Linked DNA regions of Homo sapiens. The protein of the gene in region 4 purifies or fractionates together with the protein of the main gene of each other region. This does not show direct contact. Each region holds a gene or a part of one and is shown on either strand. Other genes may lie near its edges.

Region 1 (5,335 bases), on a different chromosome or scaffold from region 4:
CACATGCCTGTAATTCCAGCTACTTGGGAGGCAGAGACAGGAGAATTGCTTGACCCAGGAGGCAGAGGTTGCAGTGAGCTGAGATCACGCCACTGCACTCTAGCTTGAGTGATAGACTGTCTCATAAAAAAAAAAAAATTCATGCTAAGGTGTGAACCGAATGTCAAAATGCTTCCCACCCCTTCCTCTCCCTTACTCCCACACAGGCAGACTGGTCACTCTCCTGAAGACACCCACCGTTTACATAAGTGAATGAATAAATACCTGACATCCAGAAATGTGACTAGGTAATTAGTAGAAGGTGAGGCACAGTGAAGAGGCGGAAAATTCTGGGCAGTGGGTGGGGTGGGAAGCCTGGGTGCTGTCAATCACACCGCCTGCACTAAAGCTTCTTCATATCAGTCTCACCCACTTGCAACCGTCCAGGGAGAATATTGTGCCAATTTCAAAGACACTGCTTCTGGGGTGGGCTCTAGGAGGTGGTAAAGGGTATAAAACAACCCAAAGTGCAGGGCTCTTTTATGTTGGGTGTCTGAAGTGCTCAGAACACTTTATAATTTTGATCCCCTTGAATGTAGCTAGAAAATTAAATCCCTTTATAATTAAAGCCAATAATGAATGGGCATTAAAGTTATCCAATCTATACACTGCATTAGTTTTTAATCTGCGGTTGGGCTGTAGCGTTTACTTCTTGATCTTTTCTATCTCTAATCTGGTTATAACTGCCTGTCATTTTTACTTTTCCTGGGAGGGGCAGAGTCTCTCTCTCTCTTCTCTTTTCCTCTGAGGTGTGCGTCGTGTTTATTTTTGCCTGAGCTGATGGATAATTTCCGAGATTTAATCCCTTTCTCTGGTTTCCTGACATTTCCACTTAGAGTTACTCTTGTGTTTATGGCCAGAATGAAAGGCATGTTTACTAGTGTTTTGAAGTTTCAAAAGTGGGTCTGGCGTTCTTGCTGACTGCTGCGGGTACTGCTGGACAAGGCCGTGCTGAGAAGGCCAGCGCGCCCGGCGGCAAGGAGCGACCTGCCCGGGTCTGGGGCCCCCAGCCGCCCCCCGCGGCGAGTGGGAGGCAGCAGGAGGCGGGCTGGATTCCGCCCTCGGGGAGGGCCGGGGGTCCTGGGACCAGAGCCAGGCCTCCTGCCCTCGACGTCCTGCCGGTTGTGAGCCAGAGCCTCGGTACCCCCACCCCCTGCAACGGCCTGCTTCGTGGGATCTGAAGCTGGGCCGCCCCCTGGGCAGGGCAGGGATCGGTGAGGCAAGGAGCTGAGGAGCGCTGGCAGGTAAGGGGGAAGTCTGGAGCCGGGTTGGAGGTGAGCGGGCGTTGAGGGGTGGGACAGAGGGAGTGGAGACGGGGCTGGGGGCGAGCCAGTGAACTGGGGGTGGCACAGAGGAGGTGGGAGCAGAGATGGGGGTGATCCGGAAGCCTGGGGTGGGGGGTGAGTGGGTTCGGAGCTGAGGGTGAGCCAGTGAGCTGAGGGTGGCACAGAGGGCGTGGGGGCGGAACTGGGGGTGAGCCGGGAAGCTGGGGGTTGGCACAGAGGAGGTGGGGACAGAGATGCGGGTGAGCCGGGAAGCTGGGGTTCGGGGTGGCGCGGGTGAGAGGGTTCGGAGCTAGGGGTGAGCCGGGAAGCTGGGAGGTGGTTCAGAGGAGGTGGGGACAGAGATGGGGGTGAACCGGGAAGCTGCGGGTCGCGGGGGGCTTAGTAGGTTCGGAGCTAGGGAGTGGCACAGAAGGGTTCGTGACGGGGCTGGAGGTGAGTCGGGGGGTTAGAGGGTAGTCACGCGGAGTTGGAGATGAATTAGGGCGCTGGAGGGGCGCGAGGGAGGAGGAGACCCGGGTGGAGGCGAGCCCGGCTGCTGGACGCGGACGCCACCCGGACCCGGGGCCCGCGCAGGGGCCTCGAGGAGAGGGGGCGGGGCCGGGGGGGCGTGGCGCGGGAGGGGAAGTGGGCGGGGCACCGCCGGGAAGGGGGCGGGCCGGGGGAAAGCCTTGGTTCGCTGCAGCGGGGCAGGCGCGTGGCCGGGCCGCGGCGCGATGAGTGGGGCCCGGGCGGCGCCCGGGGCCGCGGGCAACGGCGCGGTCCGGGGGCTGCGGGTGGACGGGCTGCCCCCGCTGCCAAAGAGCTTGAGCGGGCTGCTGCACTCGGCGTCGGGCGGCGGCGCGTCTGGGGGCTGGCGGCACCTGGAGCGGCTGTACGCGCAGAAGTCGCGCATCCAGGACGAGCTGAGCCGCGGGGGCCCGGGCGGCGGCGGGGCCCGGGCGGCAGCGCTGCCCGCCAAGCCTCCCAACCTGGACGCCGCTCTGGCGCTGCTCCGCAAAGAGATGGTGAGTGGGGCTCCGCGAGCTGGGGCTCTTCCCGGCCGGGCTCGCCGTCCCGGGAAAGTTCGCGGGGACCGCGCTCTGTCCGGAAGTCCCCGCGCCCACCCGCCCTTTCGGGCTCCTCCGCCCCAGGCGCCGGCGCCGTCCTCCCAACGACCCCCATTTTTCTCGCGTGCTCCGTGCCCACGATTGGAACCCCCGCGGGAGAGCCCCGCGCGCAGAGGGCGGCTTTCTTATGCCCGGCGCCCTCAGTCCGGCCCCGCTGGCTCGGAAACCTGGGCGCCCGGAAGCGCTGTGCGGGGTTCGTGCCTGGCCTGGGGGCGGGGGCGGCCTTGTCACCTCTCCCCGAGTGAAACAGACCTTCCCGGTGGGGGAAAGGCTTTCACAGCGGCCCAACGGATTAACGCGATTGCGTTTTCCTACCACGAAGAGGACAACTTTTGTCCGCCGCCAGTGTAGACAGCAGATTGGAACAGCCCGGCCCCCTTTCCGGCGCCCCAGGCCGCGCGTCCGTGATCCGATTACCGCGGGATGGCCCCGGCGCACAGATGGCTGCGAAAGCAGACGCGCACCCCGGGCGAGGGAGGCGGCCGGGTCCCTCAGCCCCGCGAAGCTGATTGCCCAAACCCTCTTGAGAAAGGTGGGAGGTGGCTGTCCTCCCGGTCTGGGTGCTGTCCATGTGAGTTCTTCGCCTTGTGTCTAAGCTCCATACCATGGGCTCAGTGTTTCTCTGTGCTTGGGAAGTACATTAGCTGTTTGTGGACCAGAACACACATGATTTAGGGTGACGCTAAAAGTAGGACAAGGGCAGGGATTTAGGCAACAGCGAGTCTTTCCCCAGCTTTCTCGGCCAGGCGTAGGCCAGGCAAGAAGAAATCAAAAACTTTTCCTCTTTTCTACCATCTTACTGGCCCCCATCACCTCCTCCCAATCCCCTCGTTTTAAAAGCCTCCCTTTCCATTCACCTCGTCCAGGTTGTCTCCTTTCCCTATAGGTAAATTGTTAAGAAATCTAACATTAGGAAAGCTGCCTTTTCCCAAAACTAAATTTGCCAAAAAATAAATTGTTATAGGAATCTTTTAAATATGTATCTAGTGCATTTAAGATATTGTTTAGAAAAATTCAGGGTATGCATACTTTTTTTTCAGGAGCATTATCTGTTCTGAAAACTAAGACTTAATTGAATTCAGAAAGCAGCCTTAACACTTTTAATCAAAGAGATATTGTCTTCCTACTCTGTAGCTGGCATTGAAGTGATTTCCAATTCTCACTGAAAAGATTTTCTAAGCTTCTTACAGAACCACTTAAATTCCAAGCCAACCGTTTTTAATTTATTAAAAAACATTCATTGACATAAGCATCACACAGCTGGTGAACTGCATTTTAATTAGATAAATCTACACGTAGTGTGTTTACAGTCTGAACTTGGACATAGCAGAACCACGGGGGTGAAGTAGGAAGATCATCTTTGATTATTTAAATTCCATACTTGAGCAAGAGATAGAAAAACCTCGGGGCCGCTCCTGTTGTGAAGCTGTGGTTTATAAACATGCTCTGGAGTCTTGCTATGGTGGCTTGGGAGTCAACGTGCCATTCCCAGAAGTATTTTTCCAGGTCCCTCCTGGTGTGACTGAAGCACAACCACATCCGTATAATTACGCCTTGGACCAGAGCTCTCTGTAAGCCTATTTGAAGCACAAGAAAAATAAACAGCCATCTTTGGTCTGCCTGGTATTTAGCTGAGATAAAGATAAGATATGGCTGCAGGTTTTGACAAGTTCCTTTCAAGAAATGTCACAAGGCCTTTAAAGTTGCCCAGAGAATCTTTCGGCTTTTTAATTGATTTACTGACTTGGGGCCATGGGGTCTGAGTGGACAACTCAAGCTGAGACTCCCTCTGGGGAGGCCTTGCAAAACAAGAACTGGGAGTTCATTCCTGAGATATCTGCAAAATAGTTTGTGTTGATCTGTTTAAATTGAAGGCCTGACGTCAAATCTGTGGCAGGGGACATAACTAGATGTCATGGTAGAATGTGATAAATGCCTTAAAGAAATTTTTTTTTTTAAAGCAAGCATAGAAAGAGGGGCAACTTCTAATAGGGACAGGGAGCAGGGTGGTGTGGAAGACCTCAGAAGGCGACAGAATTTCGACAAGGGAAAGAGGCACCAGGAAGGTAGCTGCGGAGCTGGAACTGGGAGTGCGCCAGTTTGAAATGTGAGCAAGAAGGGCCTGGGCAGGTGGACCGAGTGGACTCTGAGAAGCCTGAGTAGCAAGGATGGGCATTCAGCAGGAGAATGGTATTATCCCAGTTGGACTTTGAAGAAATGAATTCTACAGCAGGGTGCAGAAGGGAGAGCTGGACTTTGGAGGCTCAACAGGAAGATGAGAGGTGTTCATGGGAGAGGTGATGGAGTCCCCAGCAGGGTAGGGGGCTTGCTAATGTGAAACAAGACTCATGTGGGAGACACTTTTCTGAAGCCGAAGCTGGAGGAATTACTGAGTCAAGGAAGATGATGAAAAGGGGATCAAAGATAACTTAAGCTTTTTCATGGAAAATGTAGCCAAGCAAAAAATTAAAAATTACAGTGCCAGCACCTAGAAATAATCACTTTTAGTATTTTGGGATATCTTCTGTTAGGTGCAATGTAAGTGCTTTCTATATAGTATCTTATTTAATGGTATAAATTCTCCATGAGATAGATACTCAAAGTCTGTTTTATATTAAAGAATTGGATGCTGAGAGTTGAACTCCCATAAGGTCACAGACCCTACCAGGTCTCTTTGGCTCCAAAGCCCTATTTAACCATTGCAGTCTGCTGTCTGTGCACATGCATGCACTCTCACACACACACACATACATATATACAACACATTGATCACATATATTTTGGTTTGCTTTTTGGGCTGCACATTGCAATTATTTTCCCAGTCAAGATATATTATAATGACTTCAGTGAGTGTGTAGTATACCACTGTATGGCAGTTAGCAAGGTTTTGAAGCTTAATAATCA
Region 2 (4,660 bases), on a different chromosome or scaffold from region 4:
TAGAGCTATGCCAGTACCCTAAAAACTGAGGATGGCAGTTGTGACAAGGTCCACGTTTTCAGGAAGAACCAGTTAAGTTACCTGAGGCATAGTCAAGAACCAGCACCAGGGTGGGACTTCACAGGACAGCTGGAGAAATCTTAGACTCGTTGATTTGGTGTTTGATGAGCTGTACCAGATGGATGATGGATGGATGAACCTGAAAAGATGGATGAACTTGAAAAGGGGGTAGGAGGTTTTTCTCTCTAATGCTAATCTCTCCACATCTGTCTTTAGATTTGACTTGAAGACACTGCCTGTGGACTTTGTGGAATGCTTGATGCGGTTCCTACCAACTGAGAATGAAGTGAAAGTGCTTCGGCTCTACGAGCGGGAAAGGAAGCCTCTGGAAAACTTGTCAGATGAAGATCGGTTCATGATGCAGTTTAGTAAAATCGAGAGGCTCATGCAGAAGATGACCATCATGGCCTTCATTGGGAACTTTGCTGAAAGCATTCAGATGCTGACTCCTGTGAGTGGACTGACTCTGGCAGGGGAGGGGGTCCAAAGAAATGTGGAATCGTTATTTTTTAAAGTCTCTCCCAGAATCGTACTCAGTGTGATGGGTTCTAAAGACTCCTTCCCAGAACTTTCTAAATTGCATTTTTATTTCAACCATCTTTTCCACATTATGTATGCAAAGTAAATTTGAAAAATGGGGAATGTTCATATTCCATATTGCCATTCTTCCGAAAGAATGCCATTTTTTGTGTCTACAGATGTTCTCTAGATTTCAAAAGGACAGGGGACAAAGAAACTTGGTTCTTTTCTCAAACTTGGTTCCTCTCTGAAGATACTAGTCTTCTGGCAGTGTTGGCAAGACTGAAAATAAGACTTTCATTTCTAAAAATGTTGCCTCATCTTTAGTGAGCAGACTTACAAGCTTTTGCTGAAAGCTTTATATTTACCATAAGAGTTTTCTTTCTTGGAAGTTTGTTATAATAAACTGTGGTGATATAGACATAATAGCCAACCATCTCTCATTCCCTTGTGTTAATCTGGTGGAGATTTATGAATATCATAAACTTCAGTTCTCTCCCAATTCTGTTTCTAAATAGACTTTGTTACTGATTATAGTAGTCAGTTCTTTCCCAATTCTGTTTCTAGATAAATTTGTTGGTTTCTGCTTATAGTAGTATGTCTGTTGAAAACATGTTCTGAGAACTTCTGGAGGGTGTTATATTCCCCTCCCTTTTTTTTCATTTTTGATGCCTCCTTCATTGATTTAAAAATATTAATTGTATGACATGATTAGAGGTGGTAGGCAGGAAATTGAGTTCTACCAGAAGCAGCTGTGGACTCTTAACTCTGAGTCTTAGTGGTTGTAGATTGGTTACAGATTTTGTGATAAGCAAGTTCCTATGTTACTTGCTATTGTGAACAGTTTCAGTAAAGATCGTGCATGTAACAATATTACCTGAGACCTAGCAAGACAATTAAATTTGTTATACTTAGAAAAAGTAGACTCTCACCATGAAGCCTGTATGCTCTAAATGCAGGCCTGTTTTCTTCTGTCTTAATATTTACTTGCCAATTAGTTTCCCATTTTTAACATGTCTTTTTTCCCCTTTTTCTTTCTTTGATTGGAATCTAGCAACTACATGCGATTATAGCAGCATCTGTCTCTATAAAGTCGTCCCAAAAACTCAAGAAAATTCTGGAGGCAAGTGCAGTTTTTCTTGTAGGTATGAAGGACTACTTCAGCTGCGTTCAGTGCCTGATGTGCTGTACTGATGGGCTTCTGTTTTCACCTTCTTTTGCAGATCATCTTAGCCCTTGGAAACTACATGAATAGCAGTAAAAGAGGAGCAGTTTATGGATTTAAACTTCAGAGTTTAGATCTGGTGAGTGGACTAAAAGAAATTTGAGAGCTGTTTGAAGGACAGATGGCTGGCAGAGATGAAGTTAGGGTGGTGGAGGATGTTTTGATGAATATTTTCTGCTATGGGAGGATCAACTGGTACTAATTTTCTGGAACACCATTTGACAGAGAGCACATAGAACCTATAATTACTCATACCCTTTGACTCAGTATTTCCATTTCTAGGAATTTTTTCTCAAGTGTCTGAATTTTGAATCCTGTATTTTATTTATAATTGCAAATTAACAATCTAAAGGTCTAACTGTGGGAATGATTAAATGTGCTGTAACACTAGTTAATACAGTGAACTATTATTCTTCCACCGTTAGCATACTGATGAAGAGTGTCCCAAGAAAGATTTGTGTTTAGAAAAGAAAGCAGGGTATGCTTTGCATGTACAGTTGAATCTCAGCTAAGTAAACTATGTGGGGAGAAAGACTGAATGGAAATAGGTTAAAATATTAGCAGAGGTTGGATGGAATCAGGAAATTTTTTCAAACTGCTTTTTGTAAGTACTTTTCTATATTTTCTTAAATTTTTGTTGTTGTTGTTGCATGCAGGGTGCTCTAATTTTCAGAGTCACCTAACTAATGTGAATAAGACTAGAGAAAATCCTCCGTGGACTCCCTCCAGACTGTGCAGGCCTAACGTGATTGTCACATGAGAAGGCTGGGCAGTGGGTTGAGTCCCCCGACCAGGGAGCTAGTTATTTAATATGGAGTGTCTAGTCAGTCACAGTTCTGGCCTCCAGCAGATCATGATCAGTTAAGCATGTCTGTTTCAGGTCTTCACAGGCTAGGAAATAAGGGAGGGCCTAAGCTAAATGTAAAAACTGGAGCATAGGAGCCCTGCTGTGTAGGAGGCACCTGCATGCACCTGCTGGCTGTACATCCCCATTTCTCCTCTGGCTTTTTACTTTGAAGAGCACTAAAATTAGAGCCGTCCTGCTTTTAAGGCAAGGAAGGTGGGATAGCAGATGCAGGGCTGGGAGAGTTCATGTAATCAGTGTCCCCCTTATCCATGGGGGCTGTGATCCAAGACCCCCAGTGGATGCCTGAAACCTCAGATAGTACTGAATCCTATATATACACTGTTTTTTTTCTAGAGATGCATATCTGTTATAAAGTTGAATTTATAAATTAGGCACAGTGAGAGATTCACAATAACTAAAAAATAAAATAGGCCAGGCCTGGTGGCTCACACCTGTAATCCCAGCACTTTGGGAGGCTGAGGCGGGAGGATCACCTGAGGTCAGGAGTTTGAGAGCAGCCTGGCCAACATGGCGAAACCCTGTCTCTACTAAAAATAGGAAAATTAGCTGGGCTAATTTTTGGGTCACAGGCACCTGTAATCCCAGCTACTCGGGAGGCTGAGGCAGGAGAATCGCTTGAACGCAGGAGGTGGAGTTTGTAGTGAGCCAAGATTGTGCCACTGCACTCCACCCTGGGCGACAGAACGAGACTCCATCTCAAAAAAAAAAAAAAAAAAAAAAATAGAGCAGTTAAATAAAACACGTTACTTGAACACAAACACTGCAATAGGCGGCAGTTAACCTGATAACCCAGATGGCTACTAAGTGATTAATGGCAGGTAATGATTACAGCGTGGATCCACTTGACAAAGGGGTGATTCTCGGTCTAGGGTGGATGGGAATGGCACGTGCGAGGTTTTATCATGCTGCTCAGAGTGGTGCGCAATTCAAATCTGATGAATTGTTTATTTCTGGAATTTTCCACTTAGTATTTTTGGATACCTGAAACCTGTGGGTTTCCTGAAACCATGGGAAGTAAACCTGTGGGTAAATAGGAACTACTGTAGAGGAAAGCTGCGAATCATTCTTAGGTGCTTAGAGTCATCCCTATAGTTAAGCATGTGCCCTGGTTGGAAAGTCCTTGAGCCAGTTAAGCATCAATGGACTGGTTCACTAAGGAACAAATGGAATCCTGACCCTCCTCTGGGAATGCTCCAGCCTGTTGGGCGACTGTTACTCAGTTAATGACTCTGGGTGGGAAATCGTCACCTGAGGGGTAAGTGTCTTGTTACCCTTTACTCTTGTACCTAACCCACGTTCCCTTTTGTTTTCAGCTCTTAGATACAAAGTCAACAGACAGAAAGCAAACACTGTTGCACTATATATCCAATGTGGTGAAAGAAAAATATCACCAAGTGTCCCTGTTTTATAATGAGCTTCATTATGTGGAAAAAGCTGCTGCAGGTACTTGATTTCAGCTATTACCGTTCGTCTTGGGTATTTAATGCCTTTAATTGTGGTGGAGCCATTCCCTGCTTAAACACTTTTCAGAACCCATTTAAAAAGCCAAGGCTAAGAAGTCAGACACACTGAGCTGGAACACATCGGCCGTGGTGTTGTCCACCCCTGAGAGCAGAAGAGCACATGGGTGTAAAGGTGATCTCTGTGTCCTTTCTGTAAGACACAGGCCACTGAGCGTCATGTCCCTTCCCTCTTTTATTCACTGCCCTTTTTATTCTGCTGCTATTGTATGAAATGTGAGAATGAGAATCTGAGAATCATCACCCAACAAACACTTTTAATTTGATTTTGTGCCATTCTACTTGCTCAAGTGTGGCAGTTGTAAACATTTTGCCTTTGCCTGGACACTAGTTAAATTATTAGCACTTCTTGGTTGCTACTTTGCTAAGACAGTTATACATTTTGTCATTTAAATCATCTGTGACTCTAAGATAGCTGGGATGTACAAGGTAATAGTATCTCCATTATTATAGGTGAGAAAATTGAGA
Region 3 (2,700 bases), on a different chromosome or scaffold from region 4:
GAACATTATTTTTCATGCAAAGTTAAAAGCACATTGTGCCTCCTTTTGACCACTTGCCAAGTCCCTGTCTCTTTCAGACACAGACAAGCTTCATTTAAATTATTTCATCTGATCATTATCATTTATAACTTTATTGTTACTTCTTCATCAGTTTTTCCTTTTGAAAGGTGTATGAATTCATTACATTTTTATTCTAATGTATTATCTGTAGATTAGAAGATAAAATCAAGCATGTATCTGCCTATACTTTGTGAGTTCACCTGTCTTTATACTCAAAAGTGTCCCTTAATAGTGTCCTTCCCTGAAATAAATACCTAAGGGAGTGTAACAGTCTCTGGAGGACCACTTTGAGCCTTTGGAAGTTAAGGTTTCCTCAGCCACCTGCCGAACAGTTTCTCATGTGGTCCTATTATTTGTCTACTGAGACTTAATACTGAGCAATGTTTTGAAACAAGATTTCAAACTAATCTGGGTTGTAATACAGTTTATACCAGTGTATGCTCTAGACTTGGAAGATGTAGTATGTTTGATGTGGATTACCTATACTTATGTTCGTTTTGATACATTTTTAGCTTCTCATTATAAGGTGATTCATGCTTTAGTGAATTCTTCATAGATAGTATATATAAAAGTACATTTTAATAGAAAGCCAGGGTTTTAAGGAATTTCACATGTATAAGGTGGCTCCATAGCTTTATTTGTAAGTAGGCTGGATAAATGGTGCTTAAATGGTAATGTACTCCACTTCTTCCTATTGGAAGATTAACATTATTTACCAAGAAGGACTTAAGGGAGTAGGGGGCGCAGATTAGCATTGCTCAAGAGTATGTAAAAAAAAAAAAAAAAAAAAAGAACCAAACCACTGGAAATAATCAAATGCAAAAAGGTAACAAATTCATAACTGGAAAGCAAAGAGAAGAACAAGTATGATTTGGATGATAAAGCATTGTTTTAATGGTGAAAACTTCACAGATCACTAATGTTTCTAGAGGTTAACTTCAAGTGGGCAAGCTGGGGTTTTTAGGTAGTCAGTGGCCTAGTTCCTAAAGCCACAGTATAGGATCTGTTAAACTGAATGTCTGTTGAAAGTTTGTTTTAGCTGCTTGGAGGCTTCCTTTTAAGACAAACTGTATGTGATTAAGTTGTTTTGAGGGAACTGAAGAACCTGATGTAGCCCCTGGCCAGATAACTGCCTGATTTCTCAGATATTATTTCTCTGGGAAACATTCTACATAGCACAGGAGCTTAAGAGTGGCATTATCTTCTCGCCTTAATTTCCAGAGATTATTTCTGTACTGAGAATCCTGGAACTACTATGCTAGGAAATTTAAAGCTGCATGGTCTGTCTTGTTTTCATTTAATTATTGTGAATACCTAGAATCTTTCTTGGTCCTGATTTCTCTTGCTTAATCCAGTCTTTATCTCTAACTGCCCCTTATTTGATCACCATGTACTAGGAGCTCTGATAGCCAGCTCAGCTCCTAATCCTTGAGGCAACATTCTTTTTCTATTTGAACTTCAGTTCTGTCCTTGAATCCCGACTAGATATTTCTTGCCCTCTGGTCTCAGAATTCTCTTGGCTTTTATTCCTTGATCCACTTGCCAGTTTTATCACTTTACCCTTGTTCCTCATGGCTTCCCATCAAGCCATGGGTATTAGGTGACAGTGTAATTTATTAGATTCTGGTTTTGCCCAAATACTGGGCATGCTTTAATAATAACTGAACCATTTCATTATTTGGATAGGCATGGGTACCTTATCAAGCAGATTAAAAGGATATGGTACCCGTCCTTTAGAAAAGAACAGCTAAAACCTTGTTGTGGATTATGGATTTAGCCTAAAGAAAAATAATCTGGCATAAATTAAGAGTAAGAGAGAAGATTAATAGAAATTTCACTTCACATAACTTAAAACATGGCTATTTCAATAAAGGACTAAAGTTTCTCCTGGATCCCAGAATTCAACCTGTATTTATAAATGTATAATGTATTTAGCTACTTTTTGGTTTAAATGAACTTGTTGGGTTAGCTTGGTAAATGTTATAATTTTTACTATTTTCTACAAAGAAAATATTTTCTAATTTAAGTTGGAGCTATCTGTGCAGCAGTTTCTCTACAGTTGTGCATAAATGTTTTTACTATAAAATGAGCTAATGTATAAAATACTGCTGTATACCATAATAAAGATAGTAATACTTGATTTTAGTGGCTTTTGTTTTCTAAAATGAAAATAGCTTGAAATATTTATTATAAAAATAATAAAAGCTAGATATAAAAATCTAAAGAGAAAAAAAACCAGTCACCCTTATCTAATATTTTAGTGAGCAGTCTTCCACATGTTCATTTATAAAATTGGAATTATTTGATTTTGTGTATTGCTTTTCCCCCCTCAACATGTTGTGCACAATTTTGTACAGGCTTACATGGACATTTTTGATGACATGTTTTCTTGTATGGATATGCCACTACACATTTAACCAGTACTCGATGTCCATGTTGGTTATTTCTAATTTTTCACCATTATAAACAACCCTAAAGTTAATATCCTCACATATGTGTTTGCATACTCGTCTGTCACCTTAGGATACGTTTTCTAAAGGTAGAACTACAGCTTTGAACTCCTAGGCTCAAGTGATCTTCCCTCTCAGCCTCCCAAGTAGCTGAGACTACAGGGGGGTACCACCAAACCTGGCTAATATT
Region 4 (4,660 bases):
AAGCCAAACAAGAAGGGGACGTTCCCGCCTTCCTCGGCACACAGTGACACAGTGTCACGTCAGCTAGAGTGCCCGCAGTGTACCCGTTGTATACACGGGATCTCATTGATGGATGCGTCGTTACATTGCACATGACTGCAGTTTAAAAAGACACCAAACTTCCAAGACTCAAGAATGAAAAAATTCTATTACTCCATAAATATATATACCTACTACGCACCCACAAAAATTAAAAATAAAAACTCTTTTTTTAATTACAACTTCACACCTTAGGAGCGGAGGGCCAGGTCCCAGCTCGCTCCAAGTCTCCCTGCTGCTTCTGCAGCCGCTTTGGGAGGGCTCTGCCTCCCCTGTCTCTGAGAACGCAAGGGGTGTGAACGGTTTGCCCCAAGTCCTTCAGTGGGTTGGTGGGGGCGTATCTCCACCTCTATTCCAACAGAACCACTGCCCCAGACATGAGAAGTTCTGGGGAACAGCAGTGAGACCTGCACCCCAGCCTGAGAGGCACGGCCTGGCGTGGAGCACAGGATCAGGCAGAAGAGGCGGGGCAGACCCCATGGACTGAGCAGGGAGCGGATTCACGGCCGCTAATGGGGCCGCGCACGTACCACTGAATGATTTCCGCAATCTGAGCTTCCCAGTGGGCCACTGACTCCTTCTTGGCTGCCAGATCCTGCAGCTCATCCTCCAGCTGTCTATTTTGAGCTGTGAGTTTATCCACAAAGGAACAGAGCTGAAATGAAACAATTTCACCACAGAACTTGTTAATCGGGCATCCTTTAAGTATGCTGGATTTAACACTGGAAGTTCTTTTGAAGACTCTGAAAGTTTTCTTTAATCGTCATGAGATTTTTCCAAACTAAGTTCATGATATGGATTTTTTTCACTGTATCTAGCTTAAGTCACATTTCAATTCAAATCTAAACCTAAACTGATGGAGCTGGAGCTAGTGACTTCAGGCAATTGGCATCTTTTCGCTGAATACAAACATCCTATTTAAAAGACCAAACACATGACTCCATTCAAAAATTAAAACAGTCACGTGTAGTGAAACAGCAAGAACACGGTCTGAGAAACGTGTCCTTGCACACACAGCGTGAATGCACTCACGCAAGCCTAGACGGTGCGGCTGCCGCACACCAGGCCCTGTGGTACAGCCTGTCAATTCCAGGCCCCAAGCCTGCATACCATGTTGCTGTGCGGGACGCTGCCGGCGGCTGTAGCACAATGCTAAGTATCTGTGTATCTCAACACAGAAGAGGTAGAGTAAAGTACAGTATTATGATCGTACGGGACGCCTGTTGTACACACAGTCTATCATTGATGGAAGCATCGTTATATGGCACATTACTGCACTGTAAAAAGACACCAAACTTCGGCCGGCGCAGTGGCTCATGCCTGTAATCCCAGCACTTTGGGAGGCTGAGGTGGGTGGATCATGAGGTCAGGAGATTGAGACCATCCTGGCTAACACGGTGAAAACCCGTCTCTACTAAAAATACAAAAACTTAGCCAGGCGTGGTGGCAGACGCCTGTAGTCCCAGCCACTTGGGAGGCTGAGGTGGGAGAATGGCATGAACCTGGGAGGCAGAGGTTGCAGTGAGCCAAGATCGCGTCACTGCACTCCAGCCTGAGCGACAGAGCGAGACTCCATCTCAAAAAAAAAAAACCAAACTTCCAAGACTCAAGAATGACGACATTCTACTCCCCCATAAATATATATACCTACTATGTACCCACACAAATTAAAAATAATTTTTTTTTAAATTACAACTTCCACACAAAGTGCTAACTCAGGTACTTTGAATTAATTACCTTTTCATTTTCAGCAGTTAGCTTCTTGTTTTCATCAAACAGCATCGCTCTTTCTCGTTCGTATTTATCTTTTATTGTACCTACTGCCTCCTCCATCTCGTTATGCCTGCCAAGGTGAGCGAGAAACAGTTTTAAAAGCTCGTAACTTCACTGATATTCGTATCTATGGCGTGGGTATCAGCTTGCATCTTCTGAACTGAGAAGCTCATGAAAACCTACCGTTCTCGCTTTGACTTTTCTAACTTATCTTTTAACATCAAGATTTCTTTCTGCAGGGCCAGCTGGTGGCTTTCTGAATCATGCACCTCCTTCTTCACATTTTTCACTTCTAGCACATGGGAGGCCTCACGTCTGACCAATTCCTCTTCATAAAATAAGACTTTCTTCTCCAGCTCGGATTTGATTTTGGAAATCTCTTGCTGGTGCTCTAAGGTGGCACCCGCTCCCCGGCCTCCTTGCTTCACCTGAAGACAAAGGTTAACATAAATTGACAAACCTCTGTGTCCTCAAGGGTCACACTGTCCTTTCAACCCCTTTCATCCCAAGCAAGTGCAGACACCTTCCCAAGGACTGTGTGTGCCTGGTCTACACCAGATGACGTAGCTGACCTGGCTAACGTGATCCAGGTTCTAGGGGGTCACAGCAGGAGACGGCCTTGCAGGGGGATGTGCCCAGGTCTGCCTGGGACCCCCGAAGCTCTGCCCCACACCCTGTTCATTCATGCTTGCAGCATTCTTCTGAGGGCTGACTCTGTGCTGGGCCCCCTCCTTGTGACTGGGGTGACACTGAGGTCTCTGCTCTCTTGGGGCTGGCGGGAACTGACAGCAAACCAGTAAAGGGGCAGAGGGGCCGTGCACCCCAGCCAGGTTGTAGGGAGTGGAGGGCGTGCCAGGATGGCTGGGGCGGCTTCTGTAAGGTGCTGGCCTATTAAGTGAGGTGTCAGGCTAGGGGCAAAGAACAAGGGCACAGGCTGGAGTGAGGTGGGACGTGTTGGCAGTGTTTGCAGCATGCAGAGAGGCCAGTGTGTCTGGTGTGGCGGGGCAAGGAGGGGCAGGAGAGGCACTGCTGGGCTGGAGCAGGCAGGAGGGTAGCTGCTGGACAGCTGCGGAGCCACGGAGGCCCTGCCGCACAGGAATGTGATCCGGCTTTGGTCTGCCAAGCTCACTCTGCCTGCTGTGCAGAGAGGAGACTCAAGGGCTGAGAAAGGGGCAGGAGCCTCGGGCACCACATGCCGAGGTCCAGCCAAGCCCGCTGCCAGGGAGGAACAGCATCTCAGGCCCACGTCCCAGAGGAAGAGTTGCCAGATCACTGAGGCGAAGGGAGAGGGCAGACCCATCGCACGCGGCTCACACATGAGGAGATCCAGGCCACGCCATACTGCCAAGGAGATCCGCCTCCGGCCCCTTGCCCACTTGGCCACTGTGGCCTTCCCCACTCCCGCCCTCCGCGGCCTCCCTGCTACCCTCCAGCCCCACCAGTGGGCCCCGACTGATGGCCAGCCTGTCTCTTCCCCAGTCAGCAGCAGGCTACGGGCTTTAAGGAGCTTTTCCAAAACTCAACTGCACCGAATTTAGAATACCACGATGTGAAGAAGGCTATGAATTGATGGGGCTGGAGTAGGAAATGAGCCAATTAGATATTCGTTTCCTAGGACTTACTGTGAATTGCCTGAAACTTTTATATAACAAAGGAAAAACATGAACTTGGCCTTTAAAAATGAAAGCAGTCACGAAGGCAGGGGTCACACCCCCCACCTCTCCACATGTGGGTCTTGTCTGAACAGCCTCGGGTGACACTCGGCCCGGACCACACATTACACAAGGTGACTTCCATGTGGTGGCGTCAGCAAAGATAAGCATCCCTCTCAGTTAAGGGCAGAGACCCCCGCCCAGCACTACCTTGAGGGCCTCCAGCTCGCTTTCCATTTGCTTGCAGAAGTTCTCGCTGTGCTCACGAAGCTTGCGCTCCTTGGAGGCCTCAGCAACAGCATCATCAAGCTGAGCTTCCAGCTACAAAAGGAAGATCCAGTTTCTATTAACAAAAAGCGAGCCCTGCTTCACCAGTTACAGCAGCACCCACGGGACCTCCACAAGAACAAGACCTCGAAGGAGCTCTGCGCGTGTTCACCCTTCATCAAATCTTATCACAAATTAAAGTTTGAGAAATACACTTCTGGGTTCAACTGGGATGGTTGGTTACTAATAAAACAAGGTTCAATTCTAGCTTAAATTGACACTTAAATTTCAAGAAAGGATACATTTCTTGAAATTTAAATTTCACTGATTCGTGAAAACCAGTACTTTTGATATCTGTAGAACTTGAATTCATTTATTAAATGGGCCATTTCAAACACGCACACGAAGAACGAGCAGAATAGCGAACACACGTGCCGGCACCCAGCTTCAACAGTGAGCTCCCGAGCCAAGCCCGCTTCATCTCTGCCTGTGCCCAAACCACTCGAGGGCAATCCCAGGCACTGTTATCACTTCCCCCATATGTGGAATGCTAATTCCTCATTAGGGGTATCACTAACTTCAGTTTTAACTGCCTGTAACTACAAATATATTTGGGTTGCAAAATAGACTAAGAAGAAAACAAACAGGTCCTCTGGGGCTAAAGAACAAAGAGCCCTGAACTTGAAAGGAACAGGAGCATGTGCTTCCAGGCCTTCTCATTTATGGGATTTATCAAGGAAATTTTAATAGAGTTCTAAACTAAGCATCGCTTACAATATGTCAACCATTCACAGCAGAACACTCAGAACACCCAGGGCGGCACAGGGCTGCAAACCCTGGGGTCCTGAGACATCAGGGGTGTGCAAGGCCCTTCCTTTCCTAATTAGCTA
Region 5 (4,660 bases), on a different chromosome or scaffold from region 4:
GAGTTGGGTGCAGTGGCTCACGCCTGTTATCCCAGCACTTTGGGAGGCTGAGGAGGGTGGATCACCTGAGGTCAGGAGTTTGAGACCAGCCTGCCCAACATGGTGAAACACCGTCTCTACTAAAAATACAAAAATTAGCTGGGCGTGGGGGCAGGTGCCTGTAATCTCAGCTACTCGGGAGGCTGGGGCAGGAGAATCGCTTGAACCCAAGAGGCGGAGGTTGCAGTGAGCCAAGATCGCGACACTGAACTCCAGCCTGGGCAACAGGAGCAAAACTCCATTCCCCCACCAAAAAAAAAAAGAAATTATTCTAGACCTCGTCGTGAATCACCTTAGTAATATCATCAAGAATAAATCAAGGGCACATTTCTTTTGTTCTGTGTGTCCGGCTCTGTAAATATTTTAATATTTCTTCCACTTGAATACCTTTTTAGTTTTTCTGCCAAACTTGTGGTTTTATCTATGGAATTTTCTGTATATGTATAGTAGAAAGTGTTGCAATTTTTATTTCTCTGGGTAAAAAATTCCTATGGGTTTTATAAAATAGTTTATTGTACTTCTTAAGAATTAAGAGGAAAAGACAATTAAAAATGCAGTTACAGCAAAAGGTCAGAATACAATTTTCAGTCCTGCATATTTTCTGATATGTGGCATGGTGTTTCAAAAGTCATGTAACTTCACGATAGTATTTGAATTGAGTTTGTGTGTGATTGCTTAACATCTGTAAATTGTTAAGATAAGTTATTGCACAGGCCTACTTTAGTTTAGATTAGTTTGGAACACATCCCAGGGTATTTAATCAGGGTATAATCCTGCATAGTGCAATTTCTAAAAGGTGTGTTTGTGTGCTTTAAATAAATAGCATTTTTTTGTAGGCAAAGTTACGTCTTATCCTCTTTTCTAAAAAAAAATCTGTTAAAAATGACTCCCTACAGCACTCTTGTATTATCTATAGCTTCAGGCAAATATAATACTTAATACTGACTTCAAAAAATGTACTGTAGAGGTCTGCAATGTTTGGTATTAACTGTGTTGAAATGTATGACAATATTCTATTGTAATCTTATATATTTTTCTTTATAACTTATATGAGCAATTTATTTTTTATTTGTAAAATTTGTGGTATGATTAATTTGTAGAACTGAAAATAGAGACTGGGAGGTGATATTTTGATAAAAATAAATATTTTAACATTGCCATGGTTAATTTTACTTTCAGTTTGGAGGATGGATTGACTACACTTATAGTTAATTTAAAAATACAAATTTAAAAATGTTGTGGTGTACAAGGAAATAAGACATAGAAAAAGTTTGGAATTATACAGTATTTTACTAAATGTTAAAAACAAAAAAATTAACAAAGCATCACAGACTTAAATGAATACAAAGTATTTTAAGAATAGAATTTAAAATGCCTATGCTGTTTTGACATAGTCACTAATTGTAACCTTTTGAATAAACTGGAAATGAAATTAAATTGTAAAATTCAACTTATTTAATAATAATAAATTGTGTTTCTTTTAATTGATCTGGTAGCAGTTCTGCACATACTCAAAATTTGGAACATGCCCAAATCTGGCAGTTAGTTCTCATTGACCCATTTTTTGTAACGTTTAAAAATGTGAAGCAATCAAAATAAGATTGTGATAATAATTTCTAGAGAATATTCAAATGTAAAATGAAGAGTATCCTTTACCCTTCATCAGTATTATTGTGCTCCTTTCTGCTTCTTTATTTAGCTTTATTCAATTTTAGAAACTTTGTAATTGTAAATTTGTGTTTTCTGGTTTTTTAAAAACTGCATATTTATCCTAAGTATACCTTGATATTTCTGTAGAAAAGAACCTACTTGATTTTATTTTATTTCTTATTATTTATTTTGAGATGGAGTCTCGCTCTATCGTCCAGGCTGGAGAACAGTGGCGGGATCTCAGCTCACTGAAACCTCTGCCTTCCGGGTTCAAGTGATTCTTCTGCCTCAGCCTCCCAAGTAGCTGGGATTATAGGCATGCACCACCATGCCCGGCTAAGTTTTGTATTTTTAGTAGAGACGGGATTTCACCATGTTGGCCTGACTGATCTCGAACTCCTGACCTCAGAAGATCTGCTCCCCTCAGCCTCCCAAAGTGCTGGGATTACAGGTGTCAGCCACCACACCTGGCTGAAAAGAACCTACTTTAAATGATGATAATAAGTTGCTTACTATTAGTCTGAGAAATACAAATTTAACGTCTTCTTATTTGATGTAAAATAGTCAAAATTTCATACCAGTCTTGTTGAATTACATGATTTCAAACTTTCTTATTATGGTCTGTCAGCTAAAGAGACAAAAAACAAACCAACCAACCAAAACCTTCCCACCACACACGTCCTGTCCCCACTCAGGGTTCTGGGCAGAAGAGACTCAGTGTCACTGACTGTTCATGAAGGTCCTGGCCCTGGAGTACTGCACCTTTTAATGTTACCCTTAATATGTCCATGTTCAAACAATCAGGACTTCTGAGGGACCTACTCAGTAATAGATTTTGTAAAATATACCCTTATTTGGCTAGCACTTAAATTGAAGTTACTTTCCATAAAATCCTTATTTTGATATAGGTTTATGCAATGAATTGTTCATCTTGTTTGACATCTTAGTAGATGAGAATTCCGTAATATTGGTTATAATACTTTGTGTAGACATTATACCTAACTGCTTTTTTGAACCTAGTACACTTCATTTTATGACTGGGAAAGTCTAAATAAATCAATTAACCTTCATGAATTTTAAATTTTTTATAGCAAGTATTTCTCTTCAGTCTTAATTTTTCCTATATTATAATTCATTTGAGTTTTCTTTCCTGGAAAGCAGTTCTTAATTCACCTGCAGTATTTTCCTTTTAAAAAAGTGTATTACTTTTTTCCTGTCTTTTTCTTATTCTTATTTTAGCTTCATCTTATTCTATGGCTACAGTTACAGTTTTTCCCCATTTATCTGAATATTTTCAGTAGTTCATTTTCTTCATTTGACCTACTAAACAATGCTTCTTTTACTATTTTCTATTACTTATCAGTTAATGTTTCTACGATTTATTCATCCTGATGCAATATTTTTGAGTACATGTTGATTGAGTCAGTATTTGTGAAAAGGAAGCCTAGAGTTTGGTAATTAGTTTTTCCTGTGGAGGTAGTTTCTGAAGTAGAAACAAACACAAAACACCTGAAGTGCTTTTGGAGGCATGTAACTGAGGCAGCGATGTAAAGTCACAGCACAAAGAAACAGAGGTACTGAGGATATTTGAAAAGACAGCTCATGGAGCTGTTAGCACCTATCTTTGCCCTGTGACAGCTAGTCATTGCTGCTATTATTATTTTTTATTATGATAATCGTCCTCATTATTACATTCATTTTAAAGGTCATCAAATGGAGAACAGACATATAGTTTATTTTAAGTGGTGCTACATCTTATAATTTATCAGTGGATATGTTGCTAAATGATGGTTCCCCAATAGCTCTCCTTGGGGAACATTACATTGGAGTGGTCACATATGAATAAACTCAGAGTCACATTTATTGCTTTAGTAAATATGTGCATGGAAAATTATATTTTATAGCATAAATAAGCTTAAGGTTAGTTTATCACTAAGAAACTAGAGAAAATATACACATTGACCTTTTTTGTGTGCTTACTTTGTATGTTTCTTCTATGTGAATATTTTTAATATTGCCTTTAATTGTGGGTGATTTTTGAAAAGACAGACTTTTTAAAAATACTTGCAAGTACTGAGGTTTATGTATTTACGTACTGATTCTGTAGTTCCTGGTAACATTTTTCTTTTTTTTTCCTGGTAACATTTTTCTAATCAGTTAACTACCTTGCTTAGAACATTTTTGCTAACACTCCAGAGTCAATTATAAAAAATATGACAGATATATGGTAAAAGGAAATTCAGAATAATCAAATCAGAAATGCTGAGAAAAAACCTCTACTCTGGCTGCTGAGAGGCTCTCTAGTCTCAGACAAGTCCCTGTCTAGGCATTCATATATTTGACTGTGACTTGTGGGAGGACCATTTTCACAAGAAATTTGCAAGGATAAATATGAAAATGAATACTGTTCTTTTTTTCTTAAATATATTTTAAGATACTGAAAAATTATTTCCAAGAGGGCATAAAAATTTATATTGTTCTTTCTTCTTCAAATAGGTTATGTGGGTATGCAATTTATGTCGAAAGCAACAAGAAATCTTAACCAAATCTGGGGCATGGTTCTTTGGAAGTGGCCCTCAGCAGACAAGTCAGGATGGAACCCTGAGTGATACAGCTACAGGTGCTGGCTCTGAGGTACCAAGAGAAAAGAAAGCACGACTCCAAGAGCGATCGCGGTCTCAGACACCCCTAAGCACAGCAGCTGCCTCCTCCCAGGATGCTGCTCCTCCCAGCGCACCACCAGACAGGAGCAAAGGGGCTGAGCCCTCGCAGCAAGCCTTGGGGCCTGAACAGAAGCAGGCTTCATCCAGGTCTAGAAGTGAACCTCCTAGAGAGAGGTAATAGTTCTTTCACCCTGTAAGCAAAAGGCAAGATTTTGCTAGGAGAGCAAAGCCGTTTTCAAGAATTTAACTTCTATTACGAGGAATATGTGGAAGTAGTACTTCTCAGGCCCCACATGGAAAAACAAAAG

What was found.
Region 1: the proteins of CDC42BPB (region 4) and FAM89A purify together in Homo sapiens (affinity purification with mass spectrometry; one large-scale study listed by BioGRID and IntAct). This does not show direct contact.
Region 2: the proteins of CDC42BPB (region 4) and FMNL2 purify together in Homo sapiens (affinity purification with western blotting, with the first as the bait; one study listed by BioGRID). This does not show direct contact.
Region 3: the proteins of CDC42BPB (region 4) and DDX21 purify together in Homo sapiens (co-immunoprecipitation; one large-scale study listed by IntAct). This does not show direct contact.
Region 5: the proteins of CDC42BPB (region 4) and RIMS1 purify together in Homo sapiens (co-immunoprecipitation; one large-scale study listed by IntAct). This does not show direct contact.

Annotation. Positions count from the first base shown.
Region 1 is NC_000001.11:231,036,915-231,042,249, reverse strand, and holds the start of FAM89A (protein FAM89A), read left to right. Parts: upstream 1-1,995; 5' UTR 1,996-2,038; coding exon 2,039-2,329; intron 2,330-5,335.
Region 2 is NC_000002.12:152,628,023-152,632,682, forward strand, and holds part of FMNL2 (formin-like protein 2), read left to right. Parts: intron 1-276; coding exon 277-511; intron 512-1,633; coding exon 1,634-1,702; intron 1,703-1,802; coding exon 1,803-1,883; intron 1,884-3,985; coding exon 3,986-4,115; intron 4,116-4,660. UniProt on the Homo sapiens protein: Plays a role in the regulation of cell morphology and cytoskeletal organization. Required in the cortical actin filament dynamics.
Region 3 is NC_000010.11:68,982,869-68,985,568, forward strand, and holds the end of DDX21 (nucleolar RNA helicase 2), read left to right. Parts: 3' UTR 1-2,200; downstream 2,201-2,700.
Region 4 is NC_000014.9:102,966,438-102,971,097, forward strand, and holds part of CDC42BPB (serine/threonine-protein kinase MRCK beta), read right to left. Parts: intron 3,825-4,660; coding exon 3,714-3,824; intron 2,280-3,713; coding exon 2,035-2,279; intron 1,922-2,034; coding exon 1,816-1,921; intron 734-1,815; coding exon 609-733; intron 1-608. UniProt on the Homo sapiens protein: Serine/threonine-protein kinase which is an important downstream effector of CDC42 and plays a role in the regulation of cytoskeleton reorganization and cell migration. Regulates actin cytoskeletal reorganization via phosphorylation of PPP1R12C and MYL9/MLC2.
Region 5 is NC_000006.12:72,175,390-72,180,049, forward strand, and holds part of RIMS1 (regulating synaptic membrane exocytosis protein 1), read left to right. Parts: intron 1-4,185; coding exon 4,186-4,526; intron 4,527-4,660. UniProt on the Homo sapiens protein: Rab effector involved in exocytosis. May act as scaffold protein that regulates neurotransmitter release at the active zone.